2 linked regions of the Homo sapiens genome follow. The protein of the gene in region 2 purifies or fractionates together with the protein of the main gene of each other region. This does not show direct contact. Each region holds a gene or a part of one and is shown on either strand. Other genes may lie near its edges.

Region 1 (7,024 bases), on a different chromosome or scaffold from region 2:
TTATGTTATCCATTAAACAGAAAAACTCATTCCAGAAGGATAGCAGTTTTTTGGCTTGTTGCATTTGAATTAAGAACTTGGAGGCTGTCTGTGAAATGACAGCACTGAAGAAGAGGCTTCTTCTCTGTACAGTGAAATAATTATACTCTGAGATGTAGTGATTTTAAAGAACCTGCATACAAATGCCATTTTACAAAGAATTGTGTCTTATGCTTCAATTGATGGTTTCACAAAATGCCATTAAAAATGGACGATCAGATTTGTCTTTCCCATTTTTTTGAGATCTAGCAATATTGAACTTCGTCCTCATCTCAGCAGAGCACAGGAATTTGTGTCATTCATTTCCTCTTGCATGCAGGATACAGACTGTACATAGTCATTAAAAGACAGGTTTACAAATTGCCTCTTGCTACTTCACAGGTTTAACAATGAAAGCACAAGTGACATGCAGGTTGCATGCAAGCAGATGTGTTCAGCATTAAGAATGTGTTTCTCTGCATAGTGTGATGGTTATGTCATTATTCACTCCTGCACTTCAAAACAAAGACGCTAAAAGGGAAAAAGTAAGTGTGGCATTTGGGTGATAGCACTGAGAATCTATTGACAGAGAGTTCCACAAAATGCCGATCACTGAAGATAACCACTTATCTACATCCAGTAGGATTTGCTTTCATGGTGAAATGGTGTGTGTGTTCACTTCAAGTGACAGCGAATAATACACACTTGAATGCTATAGAAGCTATCCAAGGGAAAAGGAGGCTTTAGGAGTCTACAGGCTGGAGAAGGGTCAGTGATGAGCATACAGAAAAAGATAAAACAGTGGGGTCCAATTATCCTACCAATGTCTGACTTGCTTTCCCTTTGATCTGGTTGAACACTACTGTATTTTTTTTTTTTTTCAGAGACACTAATGAGAATGTATCCTGGGGAAATCTTGGAGCATAAGGTGGACCAGGGTCCACAGTAGAAATTTCTCTGCCTAGGAAATTTGTGAAAAATACATTTGAGGAACACAATCAAATGAGAAAGGAAATCCATTATAGTATGTGTTCAATTATAATGATCTATATTTTGGTGGTAGAAGAAAACCTCAAGGAGATTACTGTATTTCCTTTCCTTAGCAAACTGGCTGCTCTGGATTAATACAGTAATAAGAGAGTTCTCTATAAGTAGAAAGCCATTCAAATTGGCATCCATAAGCTTTAGTTTAATGAATCGTAATAAGAAGAATGGCTACTATTTTCAGGTGCTTCCAATGTAAGGCATTTTCACATATTTCATTTAATCTTCAGAAGATTCCCACAAGGAAAAATTTTATTGTACTAATTTGATGGATTTGGAAACTGAGGTTCAAAAAACGAAGTAACTTGCCCAAAAGTGCTTTTCTGTTAAGTTGTAGGTCTGGGTGTTTCAGCATCCTGGATTGTTTTCTTATAATGGATATCCATTGGGATTCTTAGTTTCCAGCCATGGGTGAAATACAGCAATGAAGGGAGTAGGAAAGTACTCAAGTCTCTATCATTATATAGAAAGTAAACCACCAGCATGGACTCAGCTGAGGCTCATAGATTGCCTGTGCTACTTAATGTAGACCACCTGTTTGATTTCCTGAATGTGGTCTATGTAATAGGTTTTTGAACTGGGGCTCTCACTCCTGATCAGAAGCCAACGTGAAGAAGGCTTGGTTTGGGGGCTGCAGGGTACCTGTTGGTGTGCGAGTTGTTGTGCATGAACCAGCTCCGGTTATTGTCCACATACATTGCCCAAGCTTTGTCGTCTTTTCCTAACATCACATCCTTCATCACGTCCATGCGAGCCACACCAAAGGCAGGATCAGGGTGGTTGTCATAGCGATCTACCGTGAGCTCCCAGTAGTGGATGCCCTTGGAGAAGCCAGTCTTCCCTAGCACCACCCGGTCATCATAGCTACTACAGGTCACTGTCAGGTTGTCATTGGAGAGGATGATGTCCGAGTGCGCCGAGCCAGGGTCGAAAGCAAACCAGGCCACTGGGAACAACAGAAGGGAATCAGGTTATTAAGACAGACCCAACAAGCTCAGCACCATAACATACTCCTGGGCGGGTGAGGAGCGTTGTGTAGCGTTTTCATGCTGCCATGCAGGAAGGAGGCGTCCAGGGCCAGGGCAGACAGGGGCACGTCCTGGGAGTTGGTACTCTCTGCACCAGAAGCAGACGGAGGACACACGACCGATTCAGCAGGGGTTACCTGGCTCAGACTGCACTCCCAACCAGGTGATCCGGGAGTGAAGTGGCATCGATTTTGGAAGGTGCAAGTCCCTTCACCTGGTGACTGGCAGAACAGTGCACCAGAGACATAAAGGGAGAGGGGATGCGCTAAGATGCCTGTGTAACCCCTGAGGCGGGGAGGCTAGGAGCTAGAGTCCTAGATGGAGGAGGGATAAAACACATGGAGTGAAATCAGGAAATATCCCTTCGGCAGAAGTGCTAACATCTAGTCGCTTTGAAGTCTTCCTCGGCTCTAGTGAAAGCTCACAAGCTGCGAAGCTATAAGCAACATAAACTAATTTTCATGAGTGATTGTGACTTGCATGTAGGACAGGTTGCTGTCTGCATAACTTAAAAAACACAGTTTGCGTGCTACTCCTGAAACTAACACGTCAGAAATTTTGCTGGAGCAGTAGGAATTTCGGACATTAGGTGCAGATAGAATGATGTCTTTGTACGCATTGTTACGCCCCAAGTTCTAAATGCCACCTATAAATATCACACTCGAGAGATGTAATTGCTGATTTATTAAACCTGTGAGACACCTCACATGCACTTTGGTCTTTGCTATTTGGTAACAGAATAAGGTTATTCCATACCTGCCAACAGCTTTTTAATGTCAACTGTTGTCATTCCAAGTGAAAGGCATGGGGGAGAGAGATAGGAAGCAAAATTGACATGGATAAGAAAATGTGTCTCTCTTGATAGACTAGTACCCCAAAAGGACTCAATTTAAAATGCCACATATACTAAACAGGTGCTCTCTGACTTGTACCTTTACCCACATTTAGTGCTCATAAAGAGTGCTTTGCACTGATGTAAAAGAAAACTGGGGGAAAAGTAAGGTTTGAGGCATAACATTAAACACTACAGGCATCTTTTCCATTTTTTAAGAGTTTGAGAAACTGCTATAATAGGGTTAGAATGACAATTAGACAATTTTATTGACATAAGACAAGTTGCCGCCATTTATTTTGTGAAGGAAATTGAGCACACCAATCACGTAAGTAAAAGATAATTACAATAGGTATACTTGCCTAATTGAGAGTAAGGTGCAGATTGTGTCTCAAAATTGCATCCTATAAAGAGATACTACACATCAACGCTATGAAACAACAACCAGGTTGATAAAAATTACTTGTATACGCTTAAAAAGCACCAGTTGAATATAGATACCAGAGGCCTGATCCATGAAAAAACAAAGCCCTTTTTATATTATTTAGTTTGTTGGGTAAAAAACTGCCCCTCTGCTCTTTCAAAATGAAAAGCACATCTTTTTACCATTTAATAAATCCTCCTCCAATTGATCCTAAACTCTGTAGCTGAATTTTTCATCTTCCAAGTTCAATCTTTTCCTCTAAAGTTTCCACAGTAAGAAGGCTAGCTGTTTTAAAAATGGGGAAAATGTACTTAATTGCAACGGAGAAATCACTGGATTTTGATAAAACTCTGCTCTCACTATTCTATGCACTTCTAACTCTGGTTATGCCAAAAGGTCTTCATTGTGACTTGAGCCCAAATTAAATATAACTAAATGTGTAATGTAATCCATTTGTGAATACATACATCTTATTAATAATTATTAATAATGACATGACGAATGTGTTAAAACTGCCTCCTTTCCTTCTTAGGAGACAAGATCCTTCTCACCTGAGGGAGGGGAGGAGGGATGGTAGGAGTGGGTGTGGTCTCAGAGATACATTGGAATCCCCTGTGGAACTTTTTCAACCATCTCCCTTCCTTAAGATTTGGATACCTGTACCCCATGAGAAATTACATTGTGTGGAGGAAGACTGCCTAGTCTTAAAATGTTCAAAAGTGTGTGACCTACAATTTCCAGTGGTTTCAAGGACTGATCTAGAAAATGTGGTTTTGATGAACACTGGGGGATAAAGAAAGGATCATTTTATTTTCTTTTCTATTTAGTAAGGCCTTTATATGCTAATTCCTAAAACATTTGCAGGATAATGTGCTGACTTAAAAGAATTTTACAAGAATTAAAAAAGCAACTTACTATAAAAAAGGACTAATGGCTGAGTTAAAAACAAAATATAAAAATTATGATCTTACTTTTGGTTAGTTTGCTTTTCTCTGGGATGAATTCACATGCAAAAGAATCGTTTCCTCCCATCTCATGGCTGATTTTTATGTTTTGTTTCTATCAATTATCACTTCAATTCCTATTCATGTGTTAGAGCATAGTGACTATGGAATACCTGGAGTTTTAAAACCGACTCTCATATTCAGCTTGGAAATAAGTTTGTAGAATCTGAATAGGGCTTTAAAAACTTTTAAATGAATCATGCCTTGTGCAACTCTTTTTCAAAACAAATATTCTGAAATCTTTTTACACTACTTTAAATACATTATCATACATTTAAGATTCAACAATACAGCTAGAATAATGCTCTTAAATACACCCATCAAATATCCCAAAACTCACATTTCATTTTATTCTTGAGACAATGTGCATTACAAAGACTGTAACGATATTTCAGTACATTAGACACAAGGGAAAAGAGTTTCATAACAAAGCATGTTGGGAAGCCATAGTGCACAGAAAAACAATAAGAAACATAAAAGCACAAAGAAGAATGTCATTTTAAAGACAGCTTGAAGTCCCTGCATCCTTTTTGCACTGTCATGCTGTGGCCTTCTTCATTCCAGAATGTGGGATGAGCAAAAAGAATAAAATAAAAACCAAAAGAAACCTTTGGAAATATGAAATGTGCATCATGTGTATCCATGATTACAATATAGTCCTGAAGAGATCAAATAGGTCTGCATCTTATATATTTTAACATTCTATTTGCTAGGCAGTGTTCGCTACAAAGGAACACAAGTCTAGCTTTGCTGAAATCAGCCTTAGGCTCTGTCACAACCAGCTTGGCTGTGGGAAACTTCGAGGAGTCCAGACTTTTTGATTACTCAGATCTTTGGTCATTAGGCATTAGGAGTTAAGGGTTTCTAATTCGGCTAGCAGTGATCCCACCCCATTGCTAGGAAAACACTCAGCCATGAGCCCCACTGTCCTAGCAGTGAGCACAGGCTTTTGCAGAAAATGCTTTCACTTTCTGCTCTCTGGATTGCCTGCTTTATAGGATGCTTTCTGCTGTTGGTGTGTTTTTACTTTTATTGTACTTTGTCAATAAAGATCTCTTGAGTCTATGTTTAATCAGACCACTCCAGGCTGGATGCACTGATCCAGTCTCCCAGACACTGCTGGTTTCCTGGATACAGAAGGGCTGCAAACCTCCACATTACTGCCATGGCCGCCACTCAGCCAGCGCCCGTGCCGTGCTATGCCACTGCATGTGATGACAGAGCGGGTTATCCATGGTGGTACCAGCTTGTGCGAAAAGAATAACTTCACTCATCACTTTCTAATGCCGTAATACATGGACCACAGCTCCATGGTTGCTCCTTCCACCACACAAACAAGAACGCCACAAAGCTCCACCATCCCGATGCTCCTCATACGGAAAGCAGGCCACAGACAGAGACTAGCTCATCCCCCTCACCACGCACATGAATGGCAAGAACAAGACACGCGTTTCAGAGATGCCTTCAAGGCACAGAGATCAAGGGGAAAGGTCTGAGGAGCTCAGCTCACCCGGTGCATTGAGAGACTGTAAAGAGGAATGCAAGCTCAGCTGGTGGGGTGAGGATCGGAAATCAAAGTAGGATCTCCCGGGGAAGCTGGGTTGTAGATTAAGGGTGGAGGAGAAAGGACTCATTCTACGGAGCGGCAATCTTTCCGAAGGCACTGGAAAAGGGAGGGTCTGTTCTTCTGAATCTGTGTCTAAATGTAAGATCAATGCAAACTAGAGATCAGAAGTCTGCTATTATGTCCCCGTGCACGGTTCCCCAAGACCTGCCTTAACAATGCATTCATACAAAGCCTCATCTTTCCCACAGGGTGCCACACTCAGGCATTTACAAAACCAATGTGCCTGGGGGCAGGGAGGGAATTTTCGGCAGATCAGGACCCAAGACCAGAGGACACCTCGAACAACAAAGGCAATTGTTGTCACTTTCCCGATTTTTAGTGGTAGAAAATTGGAAGGTTTCCTTTTAATTAAATAAAATACTTTTAGAATTGAATGTACAAAATGTAAAGGCAAATTTTACCTATTGATGACCAAGAGGATATTATTTTACCCCCTTCAGTTGTCCTGGGAGTTACTACCTATTCAACAATGGCCTCTTAAAGGGTTTCTATCTAAGAGATGGTGATTTTTTACAAACTGTTTCCTATTCCATATTTTCCCATTTCTCTCCTAATGTGTATTTTTCTATTAGATGGATGAGCTGATTTTTTATACTAGCACACTCCAGACTCTATCTTTGAATAGGAGAGGAAATGTGGGGTGGTCTAAGGAAGACAGGGCTGGACAAGTAAGCAGGGAAAGAGCCTTACCTTTGTTTCTGAATTATGATCAGACTCTAGGGATGTCACTTGACCATCTTTGTTTCTCTAATGATAAACAGACTGTAGGCAGTGGTGAGGTGCATTGGTGGCAAAATATCTGTTTCTGTTCAGATAGTCAGGTTTGGCCTGAAGATAATTATTATATCAGACTAAAGACTTAACAATTATTTGATCTGGTTTTAGAAGGGCATGAGTTAGTTTCTCTGAATTACTAAAATTGGTCCTTTCTATTTTGTCAAACAATAGCTGGTTCTATGCACGGTGTGGTCTAGTCAGAGGTGGATCTTTCGCCAATTGAAGCCTTCTTAACATTCAGTCTAATAGCAATAATTTAGGAAATACAGA
Region 2 (7,548 bases):
ATGGAGGTTGCAGTGAGCCGTGTGCCACCGCACTCCAACCTAGGCAACAGAGCAAGACTCCATCTCAAAAAAAATAAAACAACTTGGTTTCACTGGGCATGGTGGCTCACACCTGTAGTCCCAGCTACTTGAGAGGCTGAGGTGGGTGAATCACTTGAGCCCAGGCATTTGAGACCAGCCTGGGCAGCATAGTGACACCCAGTCTTAGAAAAATAAAAATAACTCTTAGTTTCCATTTTAAAGATCTGGCAATCCTAGCCCCCTGTCACCACATGCATCCTTCCCTATTGAGTCCTGACCCTGAGACTAAGGATCAGGTCCCAAATAGGACAGTGCTTGCCCTGTGTTCCTCTTGTATCAGTTAGGAGTAACCCATCAAAAGTGGGAAAACAAAAGGTGGACTAAGAAGGTTGTATGTTTCAGGAAAAATGGGAGCAAGCCCATTCCTTTATGGCGGTGAAGAATATAGTACACCGACTGCTTCCCTCATTTCCGTGGCCTGCCTGGTCCCTTAAGGCCTTTTCGAAGGTGTGGCCCACCCGGGCCTGCCTGTATCCTCAGCTGGGGACAGGTGTTAGAGTGAAACCCTGCCTTTGACACAGGCACTGGGTGGTTAGGAAAGAGCCCGTTTATATAACCGTGGTGGAGAGCACGGGCCTCCCGCCTACCATTGCACTTGGTGATGAGCTGGTCCTTCTTGCTGGACTCCTGAAGGACTTTGCTCTTGACACTGGAGAGCCTGGGTGGGGAAGATAAGATGGGAGGGTGGGCAGGCTAGCAAGCAGATGCATCCCCCAAACCCCACACCCCGTACTGAGGCCCACTCACGCTTTTTCAAAGGCCAGCTTCTCTTTCTCCAGCTGCTTGGATAGCACCTCTACCTCTCCGAGGGCAAACTGTAACTTCTCCTCTTCCTTGGCCAGGAGGACCTTGGTTTTGGCATGGGCAGCTTTCTCTTCCTGCAGGGGCAGCAGCAGTCACCTCATTACCCTAGGCCGCCTTGGGTCTCCTAGACTCCCTTAACCAGCCCCCCTTCTCAGAGGGACACACAGAAGCCAGAGCACAGGGAGATTCTGGCCACCTTGCTACAGGGGCTGGAGGTTCTCAGAGGCCGACCTTTCTTTTTTCTTTTTTCTTTTTTTTTTTAGACAGAGTCTCACTCTGTTGCACAGGCTGGAGTGCAGTGGCATGATCTCAGCTCAGTGCAACCTCCACCTCCTGGGTTCAAGCCAATTCTCCTGTCTCAGCCTCCCAAGTAGCTGGGATTACAGGCGCCTGCCACCACGCATGCTTGGCTAATATATATATATGTATATATATATTTTTTTGTATTTTTAGTAGAGACAGGGTTTCACCATGTTGGCCAGGCTGGTCTCGAACTCCTGACCTCAAGTGATTTGCCCGCCTTGGCCTCCCAAAGAGCTGGGACTACAGTTGTGAGCCACTGCACCCATCAGAGGCTAATACTTAATGAGCCTGCCTAACCACAGGGATCCTGGGAAACGGGGGAAGATTAGGAGACCGCAGAGGCCATTACTTACCACCAGCTTCTTCTCCACTGCCTGGAACTCTTCTTTACTGACAAAATTTTCGTCCTGGAGAACCATCTGCAACAGAGCCTGGCTGAGGGAGGGCCTGGGGCTGGAGTAGAAGGGGCGCCCTCTAGGGACCAGGACCAAAAGCGGATAACAGGATGATGCTCGTGGTACCTAGGATGAGACTGAGGCCTTGGGAAGGGAGAATTCAGTTCCACAGATAAACTGAGACTCAGCTCTAAGTGCTGCCCTCAAGGAGCAGCCAGTCTCATGGAGGAGGCAGTCCACAGTTAGCACTTCTAACATGTTGTGTGCCTTGATGGGGAGACATAAGGGGATCTGGGGCTCAGAGGAGGCCCCAACCCAGCCTGGGGAAGGGTCAGAATCACTTCCGGAGAAGGGGATGTTAGACCTGAGATCTGACTGCTATATAGGGTGGGCCAGAAGAGGGATAGAGAGAAAAGCACTCTGGATGGTGGGGACACACATGCCAAGGTCAGCTGCCAAGAGGAAGACCTGGGTACCTTCAGGGAATCAAAGGCAATTCAGTGCCTAGAGCTCCATATATTTTGTTGAATGAGAGCATTAGGGTAGCAAATAGGACAGGTCTCTCTCCCCTTTCCCCCACATTCAACTTCCCAGAAGGGAAGAAATTGTCTAAGAACAACTTAGAATGAGAAGTAGATGTGAAGCCAGTTTTATTTCTGAGATGGAGATACATCCTAACCTTCTTATCAAGACAGGAAAACAAAACCAGAAAAACCATGAACTCCAGATGGCCAGGATTCTATCATGCCTACCCAGGTAATCTGTGACTGCAATGCTTTGCACCCATTAGCTGGGGTTTGATTGAGAAGGCAAAAGCTAAGGCATGTAAAGTTCTTGGAGGCCCCTAAGTTAGCGCTGGCAAGGGCCAAATCTGCGCTTACTGCATTCAACACGGCACTGCCTTTGACTCTCGGGAATGGTGTCCATAATAGAAGGGATGACAGTTTCTCTGCCTGCACAGGAGGGCCATGGGAACTCAGTGACGTCATCTCCACTGAAAATGGGGAAACTGAGGCTCAGGGACTCTCTACCAGCTCTTGCAGCAACCAGGCAAACGGAAGGGAGAATATGGCTTGATTTTAGTTAAAATTCCCTGGTTCAGGAAGGTCCGCCCCTTTTTGGCTCCACCCCTACCGACTGAGCCCGGCCTCCTCCTGATGACGCCATGGGCCATGCGTTCTAGCCACGGCCCCCGCATCGGAACAGGTTCTGGCCCCGCCCCCACCAGTGAGGCATCCGGCCCCGCCTCTCCCCAAACTCCTCTGGCTGCATACCACGTTCCTCAGCTGGTGGATTAGTTCCTCCTGAGACTCAATCACGTCCCGCAGTTGATCTAAAGCGAGACACACAGATCCTGACCCCGCCTTCGACCACCCGAGGGGCGTCGCCATCTTCCGCCCCCGCCAGCTAGTTGGAAATGGCTGCCTCGGGGGTGATCCTCGCCGTCGCCCACCAATGAGAATGCGACGCCACAGAGCACCCTGGCAACGGGGGGCGGGGACTTCCTATGTTAGCGGGGCGAGGGGCCGCCTCTTAAAGGAGCCGCCTGGAGCGGGGAAACTGCTGACAACCCTTAAGGCATTTAAGTTTACAGGAAATTGCGCTTTTATTGCGTCTTCTGTTTCTCACGCAGTCCTGAGAAGCCGGCAGGGCCCGGCTTGTACTTTCCTTGCCTGCGAGCAGGCAACACTCAAAACAGCAGCCCTCAGCCTTCACCCAGGGCCTGTTAAACTGCATGACCACGAAGCAAGAGCCAGCATAGGCAACTCCTGCATCTTTAGCTTCTCATGCCTCTTTCTCCAAATCTTTATCCTAATCTCCAAATTTCCTCCATTGTATGAGATTCCAGCCTCCTGGAACACACTTAGTACTTAGGGGTCCTAAGCCTAAGCACGGAAGATAGACGAAGATAAAAAATGAGAATGGCTACACCTGAGATCAAAGTCTTCATACTCTGATACCAGGCTCTGGGCACTAGAGTCTGCACTAGAGTCATGTGCCACCACCCGAGGAGGAGGACCCTGAAGAGATTAGGAGGACTGAAGAGGGCTTGAAGGAGGAGAGTTTAGTAAAATGAAGTCAGGGAAGGATACGGTGATTACGCACACTCACCAAGTCTCTATTGAAGGCTTTTTTTTTTTTCTTGGAAACCCAAATAAGATTAGGTTTGGAGAACATCAGAGCGAATATATATTGTGTTCACTATTTCGTGGCACCGTTATGTTTATATTATTTCATGTGACCCTCATGGAACTCCTATCAGCCCCTTTTTACCTAGGCTCTATGAGAATGAGAATGAATAACTTGCCCAAGGTCACTCTAGTAAGTTGTGGAACGGAGTTCTGCTATGGGCAGTTTGGTTCCAGGGTCCGTGTTTTTGTTTGTTTGTTTTTTGAGATGTAGTCTCGCTCTGTCGCCCAGGCTGGAGTGCAGGGACGTGATCTCGGCTCACTGCAAACTTCACCTTCCGGGTTTAAGGGATTCTTCTGCCTCAGCCTCCCAAGTAGCTGGGATTACAGGCGCCCGCCACCACGCCTGGCTAATTTTCTTATTTTTAGTAGATACGGGGTTTCACCATGTTGGCCAGGCTGGTCTCGAACTCCTGACCTCAGGTGATCCGCCTGCCTCGGCCTCCCAAAGTGCTGGGATTACAGGCATGAGCCACCGCGCTGGGCCTGGAGTTCATGTTCTTAACCAGGATGTTGTGCTGCATTTGTGTTGCACGTCATGGGTGGAAGTTATGGAATTTGATACCCCCAAGTAGGAAATGACTATACTAACAAGGAGTTTGGAAAAAAAGTTACCAGTGACTATGAAAGGAGGCAGAAAGCTCAGGGTAAGTCATTCAAGCCGCTCCCCAAAACCCCCCGGGGGGCCTGACAAACTTGGCCATCCCTGTGGTTCTCTCAGCGGGAGCCCTTGTTTTGTTTCTTGCGTTTATTTTCATGGACTTGGAGACAAGGCCATCTCTGCTGACCTCTCTCTCTTTTTTTTTTTTTTTTTTTTTGAGACGGAGTCTTGCTCTGATGCCCAGGGTGGAGTGCAGTGGTGCGATCTTGGCTCACTGCAAGCTCTGCCCCAACCGGGGTTCACACCATTCTCCTGCTTCAGCTTCCCGAACAGCTGGGACTACAGGCGCCCGCCACCATGCCCGGCTAATTTTTTGTATTTTTAGTAGAGATAGGGTTTCACCATGTTCTCTTTTTTTTTTCTTTTTTTCTTTTCTTTTTTTTTTGAGATGGAGTCTTGCTCTGTCGCCCAGGCTGGAGTGCAGTGGAGCAATCTTGGCTCACTGCAACCTCTGCCTCCCAGGTTTGAGCGATTCTCCCAACTCAGCCTCCCCAGTAGCTGGGATTACAGGCAGCTGCTATCATACCCAGGTGATTTTTTTGTATTTTTGTAGAGACGGGGCTTCACCATGTTGGCTAGGCTGGTCTCGAACTCCTGACCTCAGGTGATCGGCCAACCTTAGCCTCCCACAGTGCTGGGATTATAGGCGTGAGCCACTGTGCCCGGCCGACCTCTGTTAAAGGGCCTAGAACAATACAGTTCAATAGAACTTCTAGTGATGAAAATGTTCTACAGCTGCACTATTCAATAGCCACTAGCCACATGTGGCTCTTCAGCAGTTGAAACGTAGCTCATGTGACTGAGAAATTGCTTTAAATTTTTTATTATTTTCTGAAGATCACCTTAATCATGGCTCTTTAAAATTTTTAAATTTTTAGTTTAAATGGCCATGTGTGGCTACTGGCTACTGTACTGGAAAGTGTGTGCCTAGAGGGCACTGTGTAGGTTGTGTGCCTCAGCACAGACCCTCTCAGAACTTGGTGTACCAAATGTGAATGTTCACCTGAATCACCCTTCACAAAGCTGCACATTCTTCTGGGGCAGTGATTCCTGAGCCTTCCCCAAGAACTGCACTTCCTCCCTAGGATCTTTCATGAGGCACTGCTTGATGTCCCTTGATATCCAACATCCACCTTCACCAGCTGGAACAGGCTGCTCTCTGCGTACTTGGGGCAAAACCCTGGAGAGCAGTAGGCTCCAGCAGCCACCTGGGGGTGGAAGCTTATGAACAAGAGAGAACCCTGGATCCAGGTCTGCACCTGCTTCCTGGCATGGACATGAGGGGTGGTCACCCTGGTTGGGCACTGCCACAGACTCCTCTATATGTTGAAAGGCACTTTGGGCTCCTGGTCAACCAGGACTCAGTGAGACTCAGGATGACATGACATCACAAACAGCTCTGTGATCCTGCCAGGGAAGGGTTGCCTTTCTGCACAGGCTTGTCATTTTGGCTGATGTTCTGGTTATCTATTGGTGCATAATAAACCACCCCCCAATTTTTTTAAGTCATTGAAAAAAATCATTTTGTTCATGAATCTGGAATTTGGCAAGGCTCAATGGTGAAAGCTTATCTCTGCTCCATGCAGTGTGAACTGGGATGGTTCAACGGGGAGTTAGAAGTTCCAGTTCCAACATGGCTCACTCACGTGACTGGCAAGTTGGTGCTGTCAGCTGGGAGCTCTGCTAGGGCTGAGGACCAAAGGTCTTGGTTCCTCTCCATAGGCTGCCTGGACTTTCTGATAGCATGAAGACTGGGTTAAAGATAATCATTCAAAGTGACAGAAAATGGAAGATGCCAGTTTCTTAAGGCCTGGGCCTGATACCTGGCATAGTGTCATTTTTGCTGTATTCTATTGGTCAAGGAGTCAGAGTCTAGATTCCAGAGGAGGACACACAGATTCCTCCCCCTACCCCACCACCTTTCAATGGGAGTAGTGTCAAAGAATTTGGGCTGCACTTCTAGAGCAAATCCTTATGACAGATGGGGCACCACTCCCTTCAAGGTTCATTTCAGGTAAAACCAGTCAGGAACTTAGTCTAGTGGGAAAAGTCAGACAATAATCAAACAACCAGATAAATCTAAAGAGAAACTTAGCCAGGTGGGGCTAAGATTCTGTGCAAGGGAAAGCTTCTGTGAGGAAGTGATGTTTGAGCTGAAGCCTATTAAGGTAACTAGGAAGCACTTAGCAAAGAGGGTAGGGGCAGATGAGTAGGTAGGGATACCAGAAAGAGGAAGCAGTGTATACTTTGTGTATACAAAGTCCCTGGGGCAAAAGGGGCTGGTAGAGTGTAGTAATTAAAGGGTAGCATGGCATAAAAGAAAAAGATTATAGGGCAAGAGGGGGCTTGGGTAGTGGGTAGAGACCAAGAACTTGGCAGAGCCTTGCTAAGCAAGGTAGGCCATGCTAAGGATTTTGGTGATTTTTATTTTAGGGACAAAAGAAAGCTACTGAAATATTTTAAGCAAGAGGATGACGTGATCCAATTTATGCTTGGAAAAGATCTCTTTGGTTGCAGTGAGGTATACAGATTGGAGTGGGGCTGTGTAAGTGCACAGAGACCACTTTAACCGAGAAGGCTACTGCAGTGAAAGTGGATGGTAGTTTGAGAGTCAGATAGTGTCAGAGATGAGAGTAGGTTTAGGATATTCTGGAGGTAAAATTGATGGAACTTAACAGAGAGAGGGAATAAGGGAATATGGGGACAAGGAAAAGGTGTTTTGGCTGTCTATTGCTAAAAACCACCATAAAATGTAATGGCTTCAAACAGCAACTTTTTTTTTTTTTTTTTAAAGACAGAGTCTTACACTGTCGCCCAGGCTGGAGCGCAGTGGCGCGATCCCAGCTCACTGCAACCTCCGCCTCCTGGCCTCAAGCAATCCTCCCACCTTAACCTTCCTAGTAGCTGGAACTGTAGGTGTGCAGCTAATTTTTATATTTTTCGGTAGAGACAGGGTTTCATCACGTTGCCCAGGCTGGTCTTGAACTCCTGGGCTCAAGCCATCTGCCTGGCTCAGCATCCTAAAGTGTTGGGATTACAGGCATGAGCCACTGCACCTGCAAAAAAATGGCTGCAATCATTTTATTATTTGCTCACAATTCTGCAGACTGAGCAG

What was found. The genes of interacting proteins can lie anywhere in the genome.
Region 1: the proteins of SPATA24 (region 2) and TRIM9 purify together in Homo sapiens (affinity purification with mass spectrometry; 2 studies listed by BioGRID and IntAct, with this or other methods). This does not show direct contact.

Annotation. Positions count from the first base shown.
Region 1 is NC_000014.9:50,980,096-50,987,119, forward strand, and holds part of TRIM9 (E3 ubiquitin-protein ligase TRIM9), read right to left. Parts: intron 6,072-7,024; exon of another isoform or gene 6,050-6,071; coding exon 5,861-6,049; coding exon of another isoform or gene 5,829-5,860; exon of another isoform or gene 3,327-5,828; coding exon 3,285-3,326; exon of another isoform or gene 3,187-3,284; intron 2,871-3,186; coding exon 2,847-2,870; intron 2,405-2,846; exon of another isoform or gene 2,228-2,404; intron 2,009-2,227; coding exon 1,705-2,008; intron 1-1,704. UniProt on the Homo sapiens protein: E3 ubiquitin-protein ligase which ubiquitinates itself in cooperation with an E2 enzyme UBE2D2/UBC4 and serves as a targeting signal for proteasomal degradation.
Region 2 is NC_000005.10:139,401,087-139,408,634, forward strand, and holds the start of SPATA24 (spermatogenesis-associated protein 24), read right to left. Parts: upstream 3,004-7,548; 5' UTR 2,975-3,003; coding exon 2,858-2,974; intron 1,663-2,857; exon of another isoform or gene 1,608-1,662; coding exon 1,542-1,607; intron 960-1,541; coding exon 829-959; intron 740-828; coding exon 669-739; intron 1-668. UniProt on the Homo sapiens protein: Binds DNA with high affinity but does not bind to TATA boxes. Synergises with GMNN and TBP in activation of TATA box-containing promoters and with GMNN and TBPL1 in activation of the NF1 TATA-less promoter.